6 linked regions of the Homo sapiens genome follow. The protein of the gene in region 3 purifies or fractionates together with the protein of the main gene of each other region. This does not show direct contact. Each region holds a gene or a part of one and is shown on either strand. Other genes may lie near its edges. The genes, in order: EGLN2, DBNL, LPP, ALAD, RDX and AGFG1.

Region 1 (3,372 bases), on a different chromosome or scaffold from region 3:
TCAGTGCTGCCACATGAGCTGTGGCATCAGGCAGGTGACTTCCTGGTCTCAGGTTCCTCATCCATGGATCCAATGGAGCTCACAGCTATTTCACAGGTTGTTGTGGAACAAGTGAACAAGATAACAAGTGTCTGGGAAGACAGCCAGCACAGTGCCTGCCACATGGAGAACTGGAGCACAGGCTGAAATGCCATTTAAAAATTTTAAAAGGTCCCTGTCCCACCCTCTGCCCAAAGTCACTGCAGTGGCAAGATGAGGTAGCACACAAAAAGGGGAGGACTGGCACAAGGACCCTTCAACTTCTCCCCAGCCCGGACCATCTGTCTTGACCTCTCTGCCCTGACCTCTCTGCCCTGGTACAACTCTGCTGGCGTCCATTCCCCACGAATGCTCAGCTACACCTATGGGCCCGGCCCAGCAAGACAGTCCCAAGATAAACATTCACGATCAAACATCAGTGGCCACTGCCACAACAGGATGCTTGCCAAGCACGCACGCCACAGCAGACTGGGCTGCTTCAATCCTCACCCTCCCCAGGACGCCTCCCAACACATTATCCCAGGGCTCACCCTCTGTGGTGGATGTTAAGCTGCTCTGCATTAACCATGTGCACCTCATCCACCAGACCTTGCCCTGGAAAGAGAGGGCTGCCACCATCTACTGCCACCTAGCAGTGGGAAGCTGACAACCTTCTCTCTGGCAGCACCAGAGTACAATTAGTGAGAAGGCCCCCCAGGGAAAACCCTAATGGCTACACTTCAAGGTTCAGGAGGGGGCACCTTCTTTGCACTGCTCACTCCCTATGGAAGGGTCGGCACTCTGAGCAACCACCTCACTGGGAGAAGAATTGGGCCATGGTCCAGGAGGCTTAGAAACAGTGAGTTACTGACTAGAGATGGGCAAGACCTCCCCAATTAGGAATCCAATCAGAGATTACACTGATGATGCACGTGGATGGGTGGCAGGGAAGGGGTCCAGTGCTGCACCCTCTTCCCACAATTCATCCCCACACAGCAGCCAGAGCCCCTCCTCTCCAGGTCTTCACTCCATCCTGAGAAAATACAAATTCCCAACCACAGCCTCAAAGGCCCCCAACCTCATGTGCCTCTCCCATCACTCTGCTCCATGCCTCAACAGGCTGAGCTCATCGCCACCACAAGGCCTCAGCACTGGCCTGGGACACTCTTCCTTCTGACCCTCTTTGTTATTCAGGATTCAGAGACCAAGGGTCACCTTGAGTACTCCGGCTGATTGTCCGTTCCACTCCTAGCAACATGGCATCAGCACAGGCACCTGTTTACCTAGTACTGCCCTGGAAGGCAGCCACAGGGAAGCCCCTGGGGCCAGGTTGGTCTCCCCAGTGCCCAGTGCAGTACCTGCAGACTGGAGTGCACTGCTCTGGGCCTCCTCTGCACCCCAGCCCTGCTATGTTTCCTCCTGCCCTGTACATTCTCACACAGCGCCTCCCACCAAGCACATGGGACTCACACAGAAACAGGAACCTGCTCTTTAGGGCCCCACCCTTCCCCCACATATACACACCTTGGGGGTGAAAGCATCCTCTGGCCCCAAGGAAAGTATCTACTTCCTGCCCTCACAGGGGAAGGCCTCAGGAAACTTGCTCTCCACCCCTCCCACCTAGGGGAGGGACAGGTGGGACCAGGGCCAGGAGACCAAAGACTTAAAGGCTATTGGTGACAATCTGCCTGCCAAGAGCCCCACCCCCACTACACACACACCCCAGTCAGAAGCCTGTGACTGTCCCACCTCCAAGCTGCTCTTCAAGGAGCAAACCAAGCAAGCTGGACTCTCCCTGGGGTCCCCTCTGGTAGCCCTTGCTGCCAGTGGGAGTCAACTCTCTCCCACCTACAGGTCAACGGAGCACCTGTCCCCAACCAGGGAGTTGGGGGAAGGAAGGATGACACAGGAGCTCCACTCAGAACGACTAAGAAGCACGTTTCTACTGGCTCTAGCCACACTGGTGATCCATGTCCCCACGGCAACTGCTGCAGCCCACCTGAGCACCCCACAGCCTTACTCTGGAGTACAGGAGAGAGTCCAGATGGGGCCCATCTAAAAGCGGGAAAGCCTGGAGTTGCTGTCTCACTGGGGAGGGGAGGGCTCCTCCCCTATGTTCTCAGTCCAGCCTGGCCTGTCCTTACTTCCCTAGGACAATCAAGGTCACCTAGGGCTAAAAAAGTCCAAACACGCCCCTTCCCCAATCCTCGCTGGGGCCCTGTCCCCAACCACATAGAAAGTGGGCACCAGAGGCACCAAAACACAAGAGATCTTCTCCTACTCTCCCCTCCCCAAACTGCCAGACTCACTGGGGATGTAACCTGGTTTTCGTATTCCGTGGATCAGCAAATTGAGGCTCAGAGCAGTGTCCCATCTGGGCCACTCAGCCCTTCTGGTCTCCCCCTGACGAGGACGACAGCCAACCTGGGGTGAAGATGCTGAGCCAGGGAGGCCACTGATCCCGCCCGCACAGGAGCCAAGCCCAGGGAGGGGCCGGCTCTGGCTCAGCTATCAAGTAACGGGAGGGAGAGGGAAGTAGAACAAGTTCCAGCTGGGGTGGGGAGGAAACAGGCCTTGGCCCCGGGGGAGCCCTGGTCCCTGAGCCAGCTCCAGCCTGAGAGGAAAGCCACACAGAAGCAGAACCCAAGATGGGATCTGCAGGAGGAGGCAGAGGACATCAGGAGCTCAGCCTCACGCCTGCAGGGCACAACACTGCCCGTGCCATCAGCCAGCCAGGCATCACTGTGTTGAGCAGTGGGCACTCCCCACAGGGCCTTGTCCAAAGGACACCAAGCCTTGGACTCAAGGCCAGGCCCCCACACCACCCATGAAGACAATGATCCTGTCAGCAGCCCGGAAAGGCCCTATGGACCACTGTCCTGTGCTGGGCTCCTGACCCCAGGTTCCTGAACAGGCAGCTGGAGGCCATGAGGCCTTGACAACTGCCCGGAAACTCCAAGCAAATGAGCATTTGTCTTAAGAGAGGATCTGTGGCCTCTGACAGATTCTCAAAAAGACCCAGGCTCCAAAATACCATTAAGAACTATTGTTCTAAAGCAAAAAGAAAAAGGGACTAAGAACAAACACATAAAGGCAGAGGAAGAGACAGACATGGGTAGGGAGGAAGTGACACACAGGACAGGGGGAATGGAGGGCAGGGACTGGGACAGTGAAGGGTGGGAGACATGGGGATGAGCTCCACCTGGGCCAACAGGCAGCCACCCAGTACCACCCCCAGGAGACTGTCCTCGATGCAGATGCCACAGTGGGGACCCAGGGCACAATGCAGTCCAGGGCCAAGCACTCGGCCCAGCGGGCAGCACCCCTTTCCTTCCCTCAGCCCAGGGCTCACTC
Region 2 (3,500 bases), on a different chromosome or scaffold from region 3:
AGGAAGAGCTGATCAGGTATTTCATCTACAGGGCTCCGTATGAGTGGAGGCAGTCATGAGCCCCACTCTGGGGACAGCAAATTGTTGCATTTGTGGCAGAGCCCTGTCCTGTGCCACTGGGGATGACAGGAAACTCTCAAGTTGTTGATCTCTGCAACTCCCAGTCACCTGCCACACCACATGTCTACTGTTCAATGGCAATCCTTCTAGAAAGGGGACACCTCCCAGAAAGATTGTGAAAGGAAGGGGCTTTCTACCAACAACAGACATCAAACCGTGGAGAACCACTCCGAGTGTTCATTGAACAATGAAGCCATGTCCAGCTCAGGACAGAGGGAGGGGTCAGGCAACTTCTGGAGGAGGAGCAGTCACGGGTGTCAGCTGAGGGGCCCACAGGTCACACTCTGACGAAGCCTACCCTGACAACCTCTGCTCTGTGCTGGCCAAGAGCCTGTCCTTCCTGTAGAGACCTCCAGAGCCTCCCCCGTGACTATCTGCAGTGATACTGCCTCTCCCAGTGAGGATGGGGCCCCTGCAAGCACTCGGCACAAGACCAGGGCAGGACAAAGGGAGAAGAAGATATGTCTGTGGACTTTCTTTCCACCAGCACCAGTTCTGGGACTGGTGAGCTTCCCACCGCAGCTCCCAACGCAGGCTGCCCACAAGCTGGAGAGGCCTGTTTCCCTCTCAGCTCTCCCCAAGTAGACAAAGAGAAAGCACTCCCCTGCACCCAGAGGGAAGGAGAACCAAGGAGGAATGTTTTCACTTACACATATCTGAAACCTAAGGCCTGCCAGAAGTGGCCAGTGAGCACTGGAAGCCCCATGTGGCTCAGTGGACCAAGACAGCTGAGTGCGCTGACCCCTCGTCGTCACCCTCCTACCTCCTGGTGTCCCTGAGTCCATTTGGAGTCATACTCACCCCCTGTGCCAGCCACGCGGATGTCATTGCTGTTGCCTTCATAGGTAAAGAGAGCCCTGAAACGAAACACAAGTGAGCTCTGTAGCCAGCACCTTGGGTTCCATCTCTCCTCACCGTATCCACCATGACTTTCCACTACATCCCAAAGAGCTTGGGCTGACAGTAACACTGTGGGTGGGCACAGGCCCGTTCTCACTTTGCTCTGACCCACTAGGCAGGTTCTCAGTAGGCAACTGTGCAGCCTTCTCAGCTCTGCAGCTGGGAGGACACTGGCCTGACTTACCATGGGGTGGGGGTTGTGAGGGACAAAGCCATGGAGATGGGAGCACACATCTACTATGAGGAAAACATGAGCTGTGGAGTTTCCCAATGACTGCTATACATTCATGTGTCAAATACTCACCTGGCCACTAGGTATATGGATTTGAAGAGACAAAACATATCTACATATTCCTGAACCCAGAGCACCCAAAAGGAGAAGCAAGTCGGAGAAATACACACACTGGGCCCCTTGGAAGGCTGCCCACCACTCCTGTGCACGTCTGCCCTGGCTCCAGTGAAGCCTGGTGGGTAGGGCAGCAGGTCCTTCCAGGCTTGAGACTCTTTGGTAAACACAGACTACCACAGGTTGTGTTTATCAGAAACCACAAAGGAATGACACGACATGAAATCACACAGTTAAAGCCATGAACCTGCCAAGCCCCTCACGGACAGGTACCCATGAGCAAGTTTTCTATCTAGCAGAGCCTTATCTCTCCATGGGTGACATGGGGCCATGGCTTTCTTTTCCTGAAAGATTAATTATTCATAAGAACTTTGGGCTGGGCGCAGTGGCTCACGCCTGTAATCCCAGCACTCTGGGAGGCCGAGGCGGGCAGATGTGGATCACGAGGTCAGGAGATCGAGACCATTCTGGCTAACACGGTGAAATCCCATCTCTACTAAAAATACAAAAAATCAGCTGGGCGTGGCAGCAGGCACCTGTAGTCCCAGCTACTCAGGAGGTTGAGGCAGGAGAATGGCATGAACCCGGGAGGCGGGGCTTGCAGTGAGCCAAGATCGCGCCACTGCACTCCAGCCTGGGCAACAGAGTGAGACTCCATCTCAAAAAAAAGAACAGAACTCTGGGCCAGGTGGGTGGCTCGTGTCTGTAATCCCAGGACTTTGGGAGGCTGAGGCAGGAGGGTCGCTTGAGCCCAGGAGTTTGAGACCAGCCTGGGCAACATGGTGGGACCCTGTCTCTACCAAAAATACAAAAATCAGCCAGGCGTGGTGGCATATGCCCGTAGTCCCAACTACTCGGGAGGCTGAGGTGGGAGGATTGCTTAAGCCTGGGAGGTCGAGGCTACAGTGAGCCATGATGATGCCATTGTACTCCAGCCCAAACAACAGAGTGAAACCCCAACTCTTAAAAACAAAAACAAAAACAAAACTCTGGTAAAGATTCATTCTGGCTTGCTAATAGCATGAACCTTGCAGCAACTGAACATCCCCAGCAGGGCTGCTGGACATGGGCTGGAGGCACTGACCCACTGGACTATAAGTCAAAGGCAAAACCCAGTCCAGTGTGTGTCATCTCCCCAGGCTCTAAAGCACAGGCCTGCTGAGGCAGGCCAGACAGAAGCTCCAGGGATAAACAGTCGGACAGGAACCAAATCAGCTTCAACTTGGCTTCCCCAGGGCTTTGCCAGTGCCACTGGGCAGAGATACTTATGCCTCAGAAAAATGGAAGAAATTAGACCCAGGCCCAGTGGATCTGGTTGGTAGGGAGGAGACAGGCCTCCGGGAAAAGGCACTCCTTACCAGGAGGGGAGACAGAATACAGGAGAGAAACACTGAATGAGAAACACTCAGAGAAAAGGAACTAGAGAAAAGAACACAGAAAAACAAGAGAAAGATTTGGGAGGTGGCACACTGCCAGCATGAGCTGGGGGGAACTCCCTGGAGGAAAGAAGCCCATTCCTCTTGATGGCCACAAAGCCCTGGCTCCCAGAAGATAGCAAGCTGGCACAAGCAGCAGGTAACAGAAGATGGCAGCTCAACCCAGCTCTTGCAAGAAGGGACTCAACCAGCTGCGATGGCTCATGCCGGTAATCCCAGCACTTTGGGAGGCCAAGGCGGGTGGATCACCTGAGGTTAGGAGTTTGAGACCAGCCTGGCCAACATGGGAAACCCCGTCTCTACTAAAAATACAAAATTAGCTGGGTGTGGTGGTGGGTGCCTGTAATCCCAGCTACTTGGGACGCTGAGGCAGGAAAATCACTTGAACCTGGGAGGCAGAGGTTGCAGTGAGCCAAGATCGTGCCACTTCACTCCAGCCTGGGCGACAGAGCAAGACTCTTGTCTCAAAAAAAAAAAAAAAAAAAAAAAGGGACTCAGCAGCTAATATAATAAGAGCCAAGCTCAATGCCTGCCACCTATCCCTCTGACTTGATCCCTCTCTACCCCAGGCCACCTTTAAGAATGTTCCCAGCGCAGAGGCTCATTCCCAGTTCAGAGGCCTTTTGAAAGAAGGGCGAAGGAAGTTTCAAATCAACATGAAAAAACATGGTGCACTGGCCTCTGAACAGCAAGGCATA
Region 3 (3,500 bases):
GCACAGCCGAATATGATGTGAAAACACATGAAACTGTTGAAAAACAAATATATCAAAAATTTTAAAAATAACATGAAATCTACTGATATCCAAAATCTGTAATCATCTAATAGATCATCTTGAATAACCACCTTGCTCAAATAAGAAGTAAAATAAAGTTCCATGTTTTCTGATGAGTGGTTTATAAAAATTCATTCCATCTCCCTGTGTCAGTTGGTGAGGACAGGCCAAATGTTAGGGATGTGGCTGGACCCAGCACTTTAGATCCAGTTCTAGCAGTGGGGGCTGATTCTTTTTCCTACACCAATGGATGGGTTCCAAATGCTGAAGAGAGGCTGGCCAGAGTGCCCAGTGACTTAGTGAGAAAACAACATCTGAAGACTAGCTCAGTACCTCTCACCAGGTGAGTCTCATCAAGACACATAGTTTTGCTTTCTCTCATGTCTGGTTCCTATGTGGGATAACACAATCCTCCAACAAGGCAGACACCATGTCATTCCTTCAGGAACATCACTCAGCCATCCTTTCAGTCACCCTGTTTTGGGCAGGGCTAAATTGTCTGTCTAGTTGAACTTAAACCTTGACAGCAGTTGTTCTGACCTAAAATTTTATTTTACTGTAATCTTCCCTGGGTAAATCTGTTGCAATTGTTGAAAACAAAAACTGTGGTTAAGTTGAATAATCTGTTTCTCTGAACTGGTTGTTTTGAAAATAGACTCCCCTTGACTGGGCCAGGAGGCACTGGTGCAAATATACTGCGACATTAACAAAGAGCAAGGCTGTCCAGATTGGCTATTATGGACAAATTCATTTTAAAAAGAAATAAAAAACTGTAATAACATTTCTTTTCATAGAGAGACTTAAGAAACTGAGTCATGTTTAAAATCATTTAAAATTCTAATTTGGAATCTATCTATCGGAAAGGGATCATGGCTGGCCAATTTCATATAGTGGTCACACATAAGGCTATAGGATTTCTCCAGCTCTTCACAGTCCCCACTGTCAGGAAGAGCTCTATTCCCCTATAGAATGTGAAATTCACATAGGACACCATTAATATGGCAGACGCTTTCATATAAGAAAAACAGTTTAGTAAATACCCTATAAGGAAATTTTTGATACAATGTTGAATATGTGAATAGATCTGTCTTGAAATGGACAATCTTGTAAAAATGTGGAAAGAATTTTTAAAAATACAGTCCAAACTTCTACCCAATCCATCCCCCAAAACTACCATTGAACTTCTAGCTAATTGAGGGCTCTCAAATTTCTGATTTCTCACAGTTCTAACTGAAAAGAAGCAAGGGCACTCTTCCAACCCAAGTGGCTGGAAACTGGCTCAGTTCCTCTATTTTCACCGATTCCAAGTTATTCTTATTGGTTCCTCTAGTCATAATGGGAGGAATCAACATCGTGTTGGTTCCAGTACTAATGAAAAATCCAAGTTGTGGTGAGTGGGCATGTGTAGTATTACACCTTACCTATTCAGACGAAGTAACAGAGAGTGTTAACTTAAAAGGTCCACATATGGACAATTAAATCAAATAAGAAGTAACTGTCACTCATAAGGAGTTTTTAAACATTGCTTAATAGTGCTAAAGGCTGAAGAATAAGATTCTTTCTGGAGGATTAGTAAAATGAATAAACAAGGGGTCACAAACAAGCTGCATTATACTGCAGCCCCTTCTCAAAGGAGAAACTGTCCAAGGCATTTGCATTATCTTAGACCTGCTTGGCCTCACCCATTTCCTGGGTCCTTGGCCACTTGTTCTGGCCCAGCAACCGCTGTGGTACCAACATTGCGGGAGTTATAATCGCCTTCACAGGGCCACAGCCTGACAGCAGTTCACTCAGTTTTGCCCTCCACATGTCTCACCCATAGATCACTACCCTTGCTGAGGCTTGAGATACTACAGACCTGTTTAATGTCCAAGCAAATGCAAGGTGTAGAGGAAGTTTCTGCACAACAGAGGGAAGCTTTAACCAATATAGGGAAGGATGTGAAAAATAAATTATTTTCTCTTTCTCCATCAGAACACTTTGTCCTCAGATGCTATGGTGTCTGTGGGCTTTGGAAGATGATTCTCTGAGATTGAGCAAGCAATTCCATTTGATACTAAACAGTGGCCATATTAGTAACATACTAAGTAGTCTCTCTCTCCTCTCTGGCTTCACTCATCCTTCCCTGGGATTGTATTTGTCAGTGAAATAAAAGTAACACACACACTTTTGCCTTAGGCTTCGCTTCCTGGGGAAGGCAGACTAAGATAGGCACCCCTGTATTCTCCTCCTTATGTTACTGAGTTTCTTACCTTTGGCTGCAATGGTGGCGCACAGGGGGCTGAAACAGGATCTGTGATATAGGTCTTCTTGGGACCAGTGACTGGATACATCCCAGGAGGGTTCTGGTTCCCTGCTCCAGGAGGAGTGTACCCTGGTTCCCGTTTCCAGGTATTTGGGTGACCTTGTTGACCATAGGTAGGGTCAGAGTCATTTCTGCCCCCATAGCCTGGCCCTGCTGCATAGTAGCCTTCATAATAGCGTCCCTGGTTGGGGGCATACCCATACCCAGGCTCCGGCTGAAGTCCTGGTGGTGGAATGTAGGCATAATCCATGCCTCCCCGTGTTGAAGGAGGTGGACACTGCCCAGAGACAGGAACTGGCTGAGTGTTATAGCCCTGGGGCCCTGAGCCATAAATTTGTCCTGATGAAGGGGCAGCCATATAATGAGGGCTGGGCTGGGCTGACTTCACCTGCACATTAAAGGTAGGCCTTGAAGAAGTGGAGGCCGTGGTGTAGGAGGCTGGGACTGGCTGAGGCTGGGGTTTGAGTGTTCCGATTGGAGCCACAGGGATGGGTCCAGCCTGGGGTGCAGGCTGTGGTTTCAATGTAGACTTCTTGGTTGCTGTTAGAGGGGGTTGGTTCGGGATGACCATTCTCTTGTGTCCTGTGACTGGGGTCGAAACTGGAGGAGAGGCTGTTGAACCAGTGGAGCTCTAAAAAGAATAGGAAAAAAAAGAAAGAAAGAAAGCAAAAATTACTGCCAACGAAACTCAATAAAAATGAATAAATGAAAAATATTAATAACTGCTAATTATTATTTATTACTATGTAGAACACAAATAAGGCATAATCTTGCCTTCAAAGTGTTCACAGATGAACACAAAAATCAGTTGTATATCTGTGCACTGCCGACGAATAGCAGAAAAGGAAAGAAAGGAAAAAATTCTACTTACAGTAGCATAAAAAACTTGGAAAAAAGTTATCTAAGGAGGAGAAAGATTATATACTGAAAACTATTAAACATCGGTGAAAGAAATTATACAAGACACAAACAAACGGATAAACATCTGTGTTCATAGGTTGAAAGACTTGATATTGTTAGAATGTATATCCTACCCAAAGTTATCTATAGATGCAGTGAGATCCCTATCTAAATACCAAAATGAAGTTTTACATACATAGAAAAAACAATTCTAAAACTCACATGGAACCACAAA
Region 4 (4,232 bases), on a different chromosome or scaffold from region 3:
ATTGTTTTCCCAATCCGTAAAGTGAGAATAGTAACATCGTTGCTGTCAAGATTAGATAAATGAATGTAAAATGCATGGTACTGTCCCTGACTCTTTAATGCACAGCAAACATTATTTGCTTTCTATCCCCTTCCTTGTTGAATACAGATCAGAACTCCAGTAGCTGGAAACTAAGCAGTGTCATATTTCCCTAGCCTTACGCCGCTAGGCCCCTTAAATTTAAAATATAAAGTATACAACAGGTTTGGGGTACAGATTTTGAGAAATTTAAAAAAAAATTTTTTTTTGAGACAGAGTCTCCCTCTGTCACCCAGGCTGGAATGCAGTGGCATGATCTCAGCCCATTACAACCTCCGCCTCCCGGGTTCAAGCGATTCTCCTGCCTCAGCCTCCCGAGTAGCTGGGATTACAGGAGCCCGCCACCACGCCCGGCTAATTTTTTGTATTTTTAGTAGAGACAGGGTTTCACCATGTTGGTCAGGCTGGTCTTGAACTCCTGACCTCAAGAGATCCGCCCGCCTTGGCCTCCCAAAGTGCTGGGATTACAGGCGTGAGCCACCGAACCGGGCTGAGAAATAAAATCTGAGAATAAGTGTAATGTAACCCACTAGTGTCCTCTACATTTGAAAGTCAACTTTTCAATAATCCCTGAAGAACCACCTGAAAGGCATTGCTTCGCTAGGGCGATGATGCCCGATCGCCATTTTACTCATCCAATCCTACTGGTTTACCCAGGCCCCATAAGCCTCACCAGATCCCTCTTGCCTCTGCACATCTCCAATCTCCATAAAGACCTTTGATCGGATCTATCATTGTACCTATCATAGGTCTGATGCCCCTATCAAGACTTGGAGTTTTCCTAAACGCCCATGTCTTTCACATCACATCTCTCAACTCATAGCATTGCCGTACCCTGAGAAATAAATGAAGCTGGTACAAATTTTCTCTGAAAACTTGGAAGCCTGGCGCTGAACTCAACAACTTTAGCTTAGTCCGCAAAAATGGACTTAGCTAATACTGTGTTAGGCATAATGGTGCTGTTTTAACGGCTTTGACATCCAATTATTCTTTCACCAAGCCATTAACCAGAGCCAAGTTTGCCCTAGGCTGGGCAAAGGAATGCTGTGAAGTGAAACCTGGGCTGTAACCGCCTCCGAGGCCGGCTCACACCCAGGGACCCTCCCAAGCGGTTCCTGCGCCCCCTCGTGGCCTCCCTCCTGCAGTTCGCTGCACAAGCGCAGGGCCCGGAGCGGGGACGGGCGGGCCCTCCAGGCCCTCGACACACCCAATTGGCCAGGCCTCGTTGCGTGTGGGCGGGGCCGCGGCTGGAGCGGAGGAGCCCCCCAGAAGACCGCCTTCAGGGGGCGTGGCCTGGACTGTGGAGGGGGCGGACCGTGGGGAAGCTGCTTCCGGGTGAGCCCCCCCCGCTCTTACGCGGTCTGTGGGAGACCGGAGCGGGAGACAGCGGTGACAGGAGCAGCGGCCGGGAGCCCTTAGGGAGGCAGGTGAGCGGGGGCTGGATGCGGGGAGATAGCGGGCCTGGAGGGCGGCTCCAGGGCGAGGCGGGGACTGTGGCACCAAGAGTCCTGCGTCCCCAGATTGTGCTGTGCGCCTGAAGCCCTGGCGGTGCAGCCGTGCACGGAGTCCCGTGGAGCGTTTGTTTGGGCTGGATTATCCCGCTGCAGCCGAGGTTGGGGGCCCGGGTTCGGGGCTCCGCACCTCTTCTCTGGGGTTCACCCTCTCGGATACCGCCTGGGCAGACTCCATCGATGCAGAACCCGAGGTGCGGGTGGTGGTTGGTGGGGGGGTAGGGAGGTGAAAACAATAACAGCCGTTTTGTACTAAGCGTTGCGTGCATTGACCATTCATTTATTTTATTTATTTATTTATTTTTGAGACGGAGTTTCGCTCTTGTTGCCCAGGCTGGAGTGCAATGGCGCGATCTCAGCTCACTGCAACCTCCGCCTCCCGGGTTCAAGCGATTCTCCTGCCTCAGCCTGCCAACTAGCTGGGATTACAGGCGTGTGCCACCACGCCTGCTAATTTTTGTATTTTTAGTAGAGATGGGGTTTCTCCCTGTTGGTCAGGCTAGTCTCGAACTCCCGAGCTCAGGTGATTCGCCCACCTCGGCCTCCCAAAGTGCTGGGATTACAGGCGTGAGCCACCACGCCCGGCCTGACCCATTCATTTCTTACAACAACCCATTGAGGTCGGTTCTAGTCCCCATTTACTAAACGAAGAAACTGAGGTCACACAACTAGAAAGCTACAGAACTAGGATTTGTACCCACATCTATCAGACTCCAGAGCCCACATACTTAACCATCCTGCTACCAACAGCAGCCAGGCCCAGAGTCTGGCTCACCCAAAGCTCTCCACAAGCCCAACCTGCTGGGAAACAGATTTGATATCTATCCTTAAAGTATGGAGGTGTCATGGTGGGCACTGAGGACTGGGCTGCTGGAGACCTTCCCCCAGATCTGCCGCTGACCCACTGCGTGATCCTGGGCCTGTGTCTACCCCTCTCTGAGCCCAGTTTCACCCTTGTTTCAGTGATACAATCAGCAAACTTTAAGAAGACTCTTAGCCAAGATATTCTAGGATTCTGGGAATGGCAGCTTCTCCTACGTCTAAATGGCTAACCCCAGAGGCGATCAGGCTCTTCAAAGCCCCAGGGCAAGGCTGGGGTCTCATTCTTCTCTTTAATCCCTGTGTCTAGCACTTCAGCAGGCCCATAGTAGATATTCAAGAAATGTGGGTTGGCTGAATAAACACTTCATCTCTTTTCAGAACTGCATGACAGCTGCTCTCCTGGGCCTTTGTGGGGCTTTGGATTTCTCAGTTCTGGCCACCTTCTATCTAGCTGGCTCTCCTGACTGCCTCCTCCCTGGCCAGTGGCAGAGCCTGCCAGGGCTGGCAGCAGGTCCTAAGCCTCTGTGCGAAGACCCACAGCCTCTGGAATCCTCAGCATAGTACAACTTGCAGGGGTGGGGGGTGGCACATGAAGCTCATAGCCCCTCCTGGTAGCAGTGCTCAGGGCCCAACTTCAGTTACTCCCAGTTTGGGGATGTTGCCTTCCATGGGAGGAGATACTTTCATATTAAATCTGAAACACTTCTTATCCTTCACTGTCCCCTCTTCCATGAAACCACCCTTGACTCAGAGACACAGTCCCTCTGACAGCACCTGGTCCACCCCTCTACTCTGGCAGCCCGGTGGTGATTATTTTGTTTTTCCTCCACCACATAACCTGCTGGAAGGCAGGGACTCCACTTCAGAAATCTTGGAAAACCCTGTGGCCCACAAGGGTTTGAGCTCATATTCCCATCTGGTGAGGTGCAGAAGGCACAGAGCTGTGCCAGGACATCTCGTTCCAACCCAGCCCCACTCCTAATAGTAATAAAAGTAGCTACATGTTTACTGTGCAGCTACTTGGTGCCAGACACCTACCTTATCCCTATCAATAATCTCCACAGCCTTGCAAGTTAGAGATATCATGCCTATTTTGTAGATTATGAAATGAACACTGAAAGGTCAATTACTTTGCCCAAAATTACACAGCAGAGCATAGACCAAACCTGGGACTGTCTGACCCTGAAACATGGATCTTTCTGCACCGCCCTATACTCTGCGTCCCAGCAAAGCTAACCTGTCTGATGTGGTTGGGCAGAGGTGCTGGACCTCCTGGCGGCTCGCTCCTGTCTTCAGTGTGGTAATGTCACAGGCATTTAAATTGTGGTTTGCAAGCTCGCTTGATTTGGGAGAAGTGCCCTCCCAGTCTGTGAAATTCTCCCAAACTCTAAGGGCCTTTTTGCAAAGCAAAACCCACCCTGCATTTGGCTCTGCCAATATGTGATTCAGGGGGTGTTTTCCCACTCACAGAATGGAGTGGGAAACTCCACTTATTAAGTACCTCTTACAATGGAATGACTCTATGGTGTAGGTATCAGGGCACTGAAATAGAAGCCAGGAGCTGCAGGGTCAGTTTATAGCTCTGTATGTCACTCACTGTGATCTCCAAAAGTCCCGTTGCCTCTTTATACCCCATTTTCCACATTAAAGTGTAAGGGATTAAACAGGATTGGCAATTTTCAAGCTTTTAATATTTTCAGCACTGACAGCCGTTTCTCAAATCAAATCTGTCTCTGAATCTTAAAATTCAAAAACAGATCAAAGTGGACTGCTGTAGTGAGACTGTTCCCTTTACTCTAACCCTGCCCCGGTCTCAGGCTC
Region 5 (3,500 bases), on a different chromosome or scaffold from region 3:
CAAGAACGAAAACGAGCAAAAGAAGAAGCAGAACGACTTGAAAAGGAGCGTCGAGCTGCTGAAGAGGCAAAGTCTGCCATAGCAAAACAAGCTGCCGACCAGATGAAGAATCAGGAGCAGCTAGTAAGGAACTGTCTTCTTAGAGAAAAAAGTTTAAATAAAAGCATAGAGTGAACCCTCTAAAAAAGAAAAAAAGAAAAGCAACCATTTTGTGCTTTCTGGAGAGCAAGCCAAAGATAACATGTAACTTAATAACAAAATGTAGACAAAAACCTAGAAAATTTATTTCTGCCTAAACAAAAACCTAAAAATACAAAAGAATAAGGCATTTTTCTATAGATTATTTGTAAATGGAGTCTACTGTCAGCAAAAGGTTCTGATTCACTTTGACATTGGACAGGTTCGGTAATAAGTCAGTTGGCGTCTTTTGCTTTAGATAAATTAATATGTTATAGTTATATAATATAGATATATGTTATAGTTATATAATATATTATAGATATATAATATGTTATAGTTCCTATGAGGCCATAATTGGTTGGGTTTTTTTATTTAGTGGACTTGCAAATAATTAGATGTAAGCGTGTCACTTAAAAGATCCTGGATTTAAATATTAGTTCACACATGTACTTGCTATGTATGTGTCTTTGGGTCTTTCTGAGCCTCAGTTCCCTCCCTTTGAAAAGAGGAATGATGGCCGGGCACAGTGGCTCACGCCTGTAATCCCAGCATTTTGGGAGGCCGAGGCAGGTGGATCACCTGAGGTCAGGAGTTCAAGACCACCCTGACCAACATGGCGAAACCCTGTCTCTACTAAAAATACAAAATTAGCCAGGCACAGTGGTGCACGCCTGTAATCCCAGCTACTCGGGAGGCTGAAGCAGGAGTATTGCTTGAACCTGGCAGGCGGAGGTTGCGGTGAGCTGAGATTGTGCCACTGGGCTCCAGCCTGGGTGACAGAACGAGACTCTGTCTGAAAAAAAAAAAAGGAGGAATGATACTACCTGTTAATGATACTACCTGTTAGGATTATTGGGGTATTAAATGAGATGATTTGACAAAGTGCCATTTAAAGTATATAGCATTAGATAAATATTTTATCTTTTGTGGACTTTAACAAATAGTTTATTGATGGAAATTTTTTAAAAAAGCTTTTAAGTTACACATTTTAAGTTCCTGCTACTGAAAGCAGGATTAACTAGTCTGTAGAATAATAGTAATTTTTTAATTTTGTCTCCTTAGCTCATTACCTAAAGGACTTATTGTAAATAAGCTATTTAAGATCTTAAGAAATACTGTATTTTTTTAAATGGAAGGCTAAGAAAAACATAAACAGCCTAAGCATGTGCATTAAAACTTTGTTGACTTATAAGATTATTCAAAATATGTTATTTTAATTTTGGAATTATATTGTTTACTTTAGGCAGCAGAACTTGCTGAATTCACTGCCAAGATTGCACTTCTAGAGGAAGCCAAGAAGAAAAAGGAAGAGGAAGCTACTGAGTGGCAACACAAAGTAATCATTTATTCATTTACTAGCTTTTATTGAATAGCTTTTATACCCAGGATTATGCTGACTTTGTAGTGATAAGTGTAAGATACTGTCATAATTTAGAGTGGGAAAGATACTCGTGTTATGTGTATTGTAAATATCTATCTACAGATATAAACCAAGTACTTTGGGAACACAGAAGAGGTGATTAATTTCTGGGGGACCAGAGAGTTGTCGGGAGACCCATATACATTTAAGCTGGGTCTTGAATAATGAATTAAATTTTGGGGGTACAAAAGATTGGGATGTAAAATTGGGAATAGTTAGAGACTGAAGAAGTAGTCATTCTAGACAGAGGGAACTGAATGAGTATAGGAAGTATGAATGTATATAATAGATTTGAGGATAACCAATAAGCAGCCGAGGCTTAGTGTTGTTCAGAAATGTTAGGAGATGTGGCCCTCAAGTTTGATAATAGGGAATTGTGAAAGGCTTTAAATAAATGCTCTGCTACAGCAAGGCAGTGGGAGTATCGATTGACTTGGGGCTTAGAAGATTTCAAAACAGGATTGTAACATGATCAGATATGATTTTATAAAAACCATGTAGTGATCAGTGTGAAGAAAGGATTGGGATAGTGGATACTTAAGAGATAAAGACCCAAACTGAGGATGTGAAAATGAGAATAAAGAGGAATGGGAAGATATAAGAGACATTTTGTGGTCACAAAAAGGCATGGGAACCAGTGATTGGATATGAAGTTGAATTATTTTTATTTTTTTAGAGACATGGTCTTACTCTGTGTCCCAGGCTGGAGTGCAGTGGCACAATCATAATTCATTGCAGCTTTGAACTCCTGGGCTCAAGGGATCCTCCCACCTCAGCCTCTGCAGTAGCCGAGACTACAGGCATGCACCATCATTTTTATTTTTGTTGAGAATGGAGGTCTTGCTGTGTAACCCAGGTTGGTCTTGAACTGCTGGCCTCAAGCAGCCCTCCCATCTCAGCCCCCAAAGTGCTGGGATTGTAGGTGTAAGCCACTGTGTGCAGCTGACACCGAGATTTCTAATATGAGTCCTAAGTAGATGAAACCACTGTTGTCTAAAGTAGCACACAATTGTAAAATCAGGCTTTGGTTGGAGAGTGGGGGAATATAAGATAATGAGAGTTTAATTCAAACAACATTAACTCTTAACTGAAAAGATAATTTTTTTACCCCCAAAGATGATATTTAGTTTTAGAAGATGATTTTTCTACAATAAAATGTACTTATACAGAAAACAGTTTTCTTGCACTCTTAAGTAAATCTTTGTAGCAGTTTAAATTTCATTGGGTAATTTTATATGTATTGAAAATTAGTTATATATAAATAAAACTACAAAAGGAATGCTACTGTTAATTTCCCAGTTACTCTACTTGTTTATTAGAATTTTTTAGATCCCTTTTAGGGATGATTTATGAAATTTAGAGACACATAAACTTTAAAAAATTAGCATATTACAGATATCAAGTCTGTGAATTATAGAAAATTAGAAAATGCACACAAAAGACAATTGTATTCCCATAAACTAGGGGAAATACTGCAAAACCTTAGTACATATTCTTCCAGGATACTTCCTGTTTATATATTCAACATGAAATCTTACTGTATGTACTATTTCATTTTAGTCAATTTTCATCTCAGAATATTAGACTATATTAAGAATTTCCCAAAAAGTCTCATAGCTAATTTGCCAGACAAGTGTTCAGAGGACTTTGCATTGTCTGTATTTGCTGTAAGTCTCTTTTAATGGAGGGCAGTTTCTCTTTTTATTATTTTGATTTATTGAAGGGACCTACAGAATGTCTCACCTCCTATATTTGTTTAGTTACTTCCTTGTGTCATTGACCTTATCCTTTAACTCCAGTATTTCCTTTGAACCAGAAGTTAGATCTAGAACCTGGGGAATTCAAATTAAATGTTTTGACTACAGTGCATCAAAGGTGAGACTTCCATATAATTGAACAT
Region 6 (3,500 bases), on a different chromosome or scaffold from region 3:
CGGTGGCTCACGCCTGTAATCTCAGCACTTTGGGAGGCCGAAGCGGGCAGATCACGAGGTCAGGAGATCGAGACCATCCTGGCTGACATGGTGAAACCCCGTCTTTACTAAAAATACAAAAAATTAGCGGGGCAAGGTGGCGGGCGCCTGTAGTCCCAGCTACGTGGGAGGCTGAGGCAGGAAAATGGCGTGAACCCGGGAGGCAGAGCTTGCAGTGAGCAGAGATCGCGCCCCTGCACTCCAACCTGGGCAACAGCGAGACTCTGTCTCAAAAAAAAAAAAAAAAAAAAAAGTAGTGGACAAAATCTAAATCTCTTCACATGCCCAAACCCACAACGAAATGACAGTAAAGGAATAAGAAGGTATTAACCCACAAGAGACAGAGGGTTACCATGATGTGTTTATCTCATACTGCATGCCTGTATCAAAACTCCTATCTTGTGTACCTCATAAATACATACACCTACTATGTGCCCACAAAAATTAAAATAAACAGAGCGTCAGAGAACAAGAGAAGAGTCCAAAAGCACACGACAGTTCTTGAATAACAAAATTTGGAAGATTTAAAAACAAAATACCAGCAGTAAGTGACTTTATGGAGAAAGCCAAAACAGAAGCTTCTGCAAAGGTGGGAGAAGCCAACTGGAAACTGATTCCCACCACAGGACATATCAAGATTTACTGAAGGAACTGGATACAGGTGAGGGCTTAAAGTGGGGTCAGAAATCATTAGACTCTCCAGTTCCTTAACAGCCAAAAGCATACTCCCACCAGCCCTAGGTGGGAAGTCTGAAGGAAAGTTTTAAAGAGGTTATACCACAGAGACTTCAAACTCAAGACACTGCTGAAGACTCTTGTTAGGGACCATGTGGAAAGCTGGAGGATTATCTAAGATCAAACACACAGAATGACAGTCACCTCCCTCAACTTGGTTCCCAGAACAGTGGCATCACAGGCTTTTATATTCCCCAAAAAAGAAGATTGGAGAAAATATGTCTGCACTATAAAAAGCGTGAGTTTCCAAACAAATTCAAAAAAAAAAAAAAAAAAAAAAAAGCCTAAAACACTGAACAAAAGACCTACACCAAAATACTTCAATATGAGGTTCTGAACAGCAGGAAGAAAAGAAGATCTTACATACTCCAAAAGAGGGAAGAAAAGAAGTGGGTCAGAAAGACTCAGTAATAAGAATAGCATCAGACTTCTCAACAGCAACACTGAAGGTTTGAAGACAACTAAGCAATATATTGAAAGTTCCAAGGGTAAAGTATTTTCACCTTTGTGAATGTAGGCAAACTAATTTTTAAAAAGAAGGCAGAATAAAACATTTTCAGCTTTGTGGCTTTCAAAAATGACCTCTCATTCACCTTTCATCAGGAGGCTAACGGAAATGTTGGGGGTCCTGGAAACAGAGCATCTAACATAGGTTACAAGTGAAGGGAATTTCCAGAATGAAGATAGAAGAAAAGTTCTGGTATGAGAGCCGCACAGCAGGCCTAGACAGCAGCATTTCCAGAGCAGAAGATTATAAAAGTACCCAGAAACAGTTAAAAAAAAAAAAAAAGTAGCTGATGCATCTGATCATATTGAAGGAAGTTCATTGCAGCTCATGCCTGTAATCCCAGCTACCAGGGAGGCTGAGGCAGGAGAATCACCTGAACCTGACAGATGAAAGTTGTAGTGAGCTGAGTTGGCGCCACTGCACTCCAGCCTGGGAGATGGAGTGAGACTCCATCTCAAAAATAAAATAAAATAAAATAAGAAATATGGAAAGACAAGAATTTTTGGAATCTGACAATTACAAGGAAAATTCCTCTTTCCTTTTCTGAACATACACTGTTTCTCCATAACTTACAAACACTGGTGTTGCATCTCCCCCTAGAGTCGTAAAAATAAATGTATTACCTCTCCCAATGCCTTAAATTACCCAATGACAGTGATCATGTGTACAGCTCCCCCACTGTCTAATCTTTTCTTCTTTAAGCTAGTAGCATTTTTGGTTCCTGCAAATGTTCCTCTAATACATAGTTTCAAACTTCCTTACCATCTTGATCAGATTCCTTGGAGCATGCTCCAGTTTGTTAACATTCCTCTTAAAACAAGCAACCAGAATAAAAGTAAGGTATAATTATGACCTCTACAAAACATGTATGGTGTCAATCAAAAAGATTGCTATCTTAGTCAGAAGTCTTTGAGCAAAGTATGTTCTAACACAAACAAAAATTAATTCTCTGTATTTCAAACAACTCAAATAAGTTTCCTGTCCCCACTGAATAGCTCATGAATTTCATTCTAATGTTCAATCAGGTGTCTTTAGCAATAGTTCTCGTGTGTAAGGTTGTAAAAAATGTCACAAGGAACATGCTATTAATGTAAGTACTCAAAGTTATAACTGATTTTAAAACGTTTTTACATACATTAAAGGTATCCAAGTTGTATTTCCCTAGACAATCATCACTTTGATTTGAATTAGAAAACACATTCAAGTGGGGGAAAAAATGAGGGGGAGTAGTAAAACCTAGTCCCGAATATTTCCATAGGAGTTTCTCACAAATGTGAACATCATGCACGCTGCACAGAAAAGAAGGAAAATATCAAATAAGGAGATTTGCCTGTTTTCCAAAGAATGCTATTGGAACAGATACAGAGGTTTCTAAAAAGACAATGATTTTCAAATTGAGATCCAGAGGTCGGCAAGTTCTTTTAAAACAATGTCTTAATTCTTTTCATTTATAATGCACTAATATTATAAAATTTAATGTAAATTTAATCTAAACTGTATTTTATCCACTTTGAAACTAAAAGCCAGTGTTTAAAAATCACATGCCAAAAATGATGGATGAATGAATAGGGAACAGAAAAAGGCTTAACATGGCAATAATGCCTTTATACTCAGTTATGGTCAAATGATGTCACCACAACCTGAATGCTGGAGTTTTCCCAGTATAAAAGGTACCCACAGCACTATACAGAAGAGTCCTTCTTATCCAATTTGCTGGTTAAATCTATGTTTCTCCTTCCCTCTGAGAAACCTAAAGTTAATGCCTACTGCACAATGAACATTCATGGCTAGAAGGCCACTTTCTCCTGCTCCTCTCTCAGGAGAGAGTGAGTTTTATGCTTATCAAAATTTGTCTGGTATAGTATTTGGTAATATAGTTGGTACAGTACTTGGTAAGTATATAGTTTAAGTGAATGTCATGTAAAACAATGGCATGAGTGAGAAGAATTATTTCCATGTAAACTAAGTATTTTTAGAGACTAAAACAAGTCACTAGGATAAGCTGTTATTTGACCATGGAAAAGAACTGTAAAAGACTGAGAGAAAAATCATAAAAATCTAGAAGAATTCAGCATTCAAACTGTTTTATAAGTACATTAAAATGCTAAAAATCATAAATAGTACAGCATGAGTCTGGGTTATATTAGGGGACAAAGAATCTAATCAGTGGACCCATATTCAAAGCCTTATGTGCCAGCAAATTAACAGTTGTATGTTA

The links.
Region 1: the proteins of LPP (region 3) and EGLN2 purify together in Homo sapiens (affinity purification with western blotting, with the first as the bait; one study listed by BioGRID). This does not show direct contact.
Region 2: the proteins of LPP (region 3) and DBNL fractionate together in Homo sapiens (co-fractionation; one large-scale study listed by BioGRID). This does not show direct contact.
Region 4: the proteins of LPP (region 3) and ALAD fractionate together in Homo sapiens (co-fractionation; one large-scale study listed by BioGRID). This does not show direct contact.
Region 5: the proteins of LPP (region 3) and RDX fractionate together in Homo sapiens (co-fractionation; one large-scale study listed by BioGRID). This does not show direct contact.
Region 6: the proteins of LPP (region 3) and AGFG1 fractionate together in Homo sapiens (co-fractionation; one large-scale study listed by BioGRID). This does not show direct contact.

The regions. Positions count from the first base shown.
Region 1 is NC_000019.10:40,802,191-40,805,562, reverse strand, and holds part of EGLN2 (prolyl hydroxylase EGLN2), read right to left. Parts: intron 1-3,372. UniProt on the Homo sapiens protein: Prolyl hydroxylase that mediates hydroxylation of proline residues in target proteins, such as ATF4, IKBKB, CEP192 and HIF1A. Target proteins are preferentially recognized via a LXXLAP motif.
Region 2 is NC_000007.14:44,047,702-44,051,201, reverse strand, and holds part of DBNL (drebrin-like protein), read right to left. Parts: intron 978-3,500; coding exon 922-977; intron 1-921. UniProt on the Homo sapiens protein: Adapter protein that binds F-actin and DNM1, and thereby plays a role in receptor-mediated endocytosis.
Region 3 is NC_000003.12:188,608,657-188,612,156, reverse strand, and holds part of LPP (lipoma-preferred partner), read right to left. Parts: intron 2,997-3,500; coding exon 2,313-2,996; coding exon of another isoform or gene 2,292-2,312; exon of another isoform or gene 1-2,291. UniProt on the Homo sapiens protein: May play a structural role at sites of cell adhesion in maintaining cell shape and motility. In addition to these structural functions, it may also be implicated in signaling events and activation of gene transcription.
Region 4 is NC_000009.12:113,398,485-113,402,716, reverse strand, and holds the start of ALAD (delta-aminolevulinic acid dehydratase), read left to right. Parts: upstream 1-1,432; 5' UTR 1,433-1,505; exon of another isoform or gene 1,506-4,232.
Region 5 is NC_000011.10:110,234,115-110,237,614, reverse strand, and holds part of RDX (radixin), read left to right. Parts: coding exon 1-123; intron 124-1,423; coding exon 1,424-1,516; intron 1,517-3,500. UniProt on the Homo sapiens protein: Probably plays a crucial role in the binding of the barbed end of actin filaments to the plasma membrane.
Region 6 is NC_000002.12:227,478,656-227,482,155, reverse strand, and holds part of AGFG1 (arf-GAP domain and FG repeat-containing protein 1), read right to left. Parts: intron 1-3,500. UniProt on the Homo sapiens protein: Required for vesicle docking or fusion during acrosome biogenesis. May play a role in RNA trafficking or localization.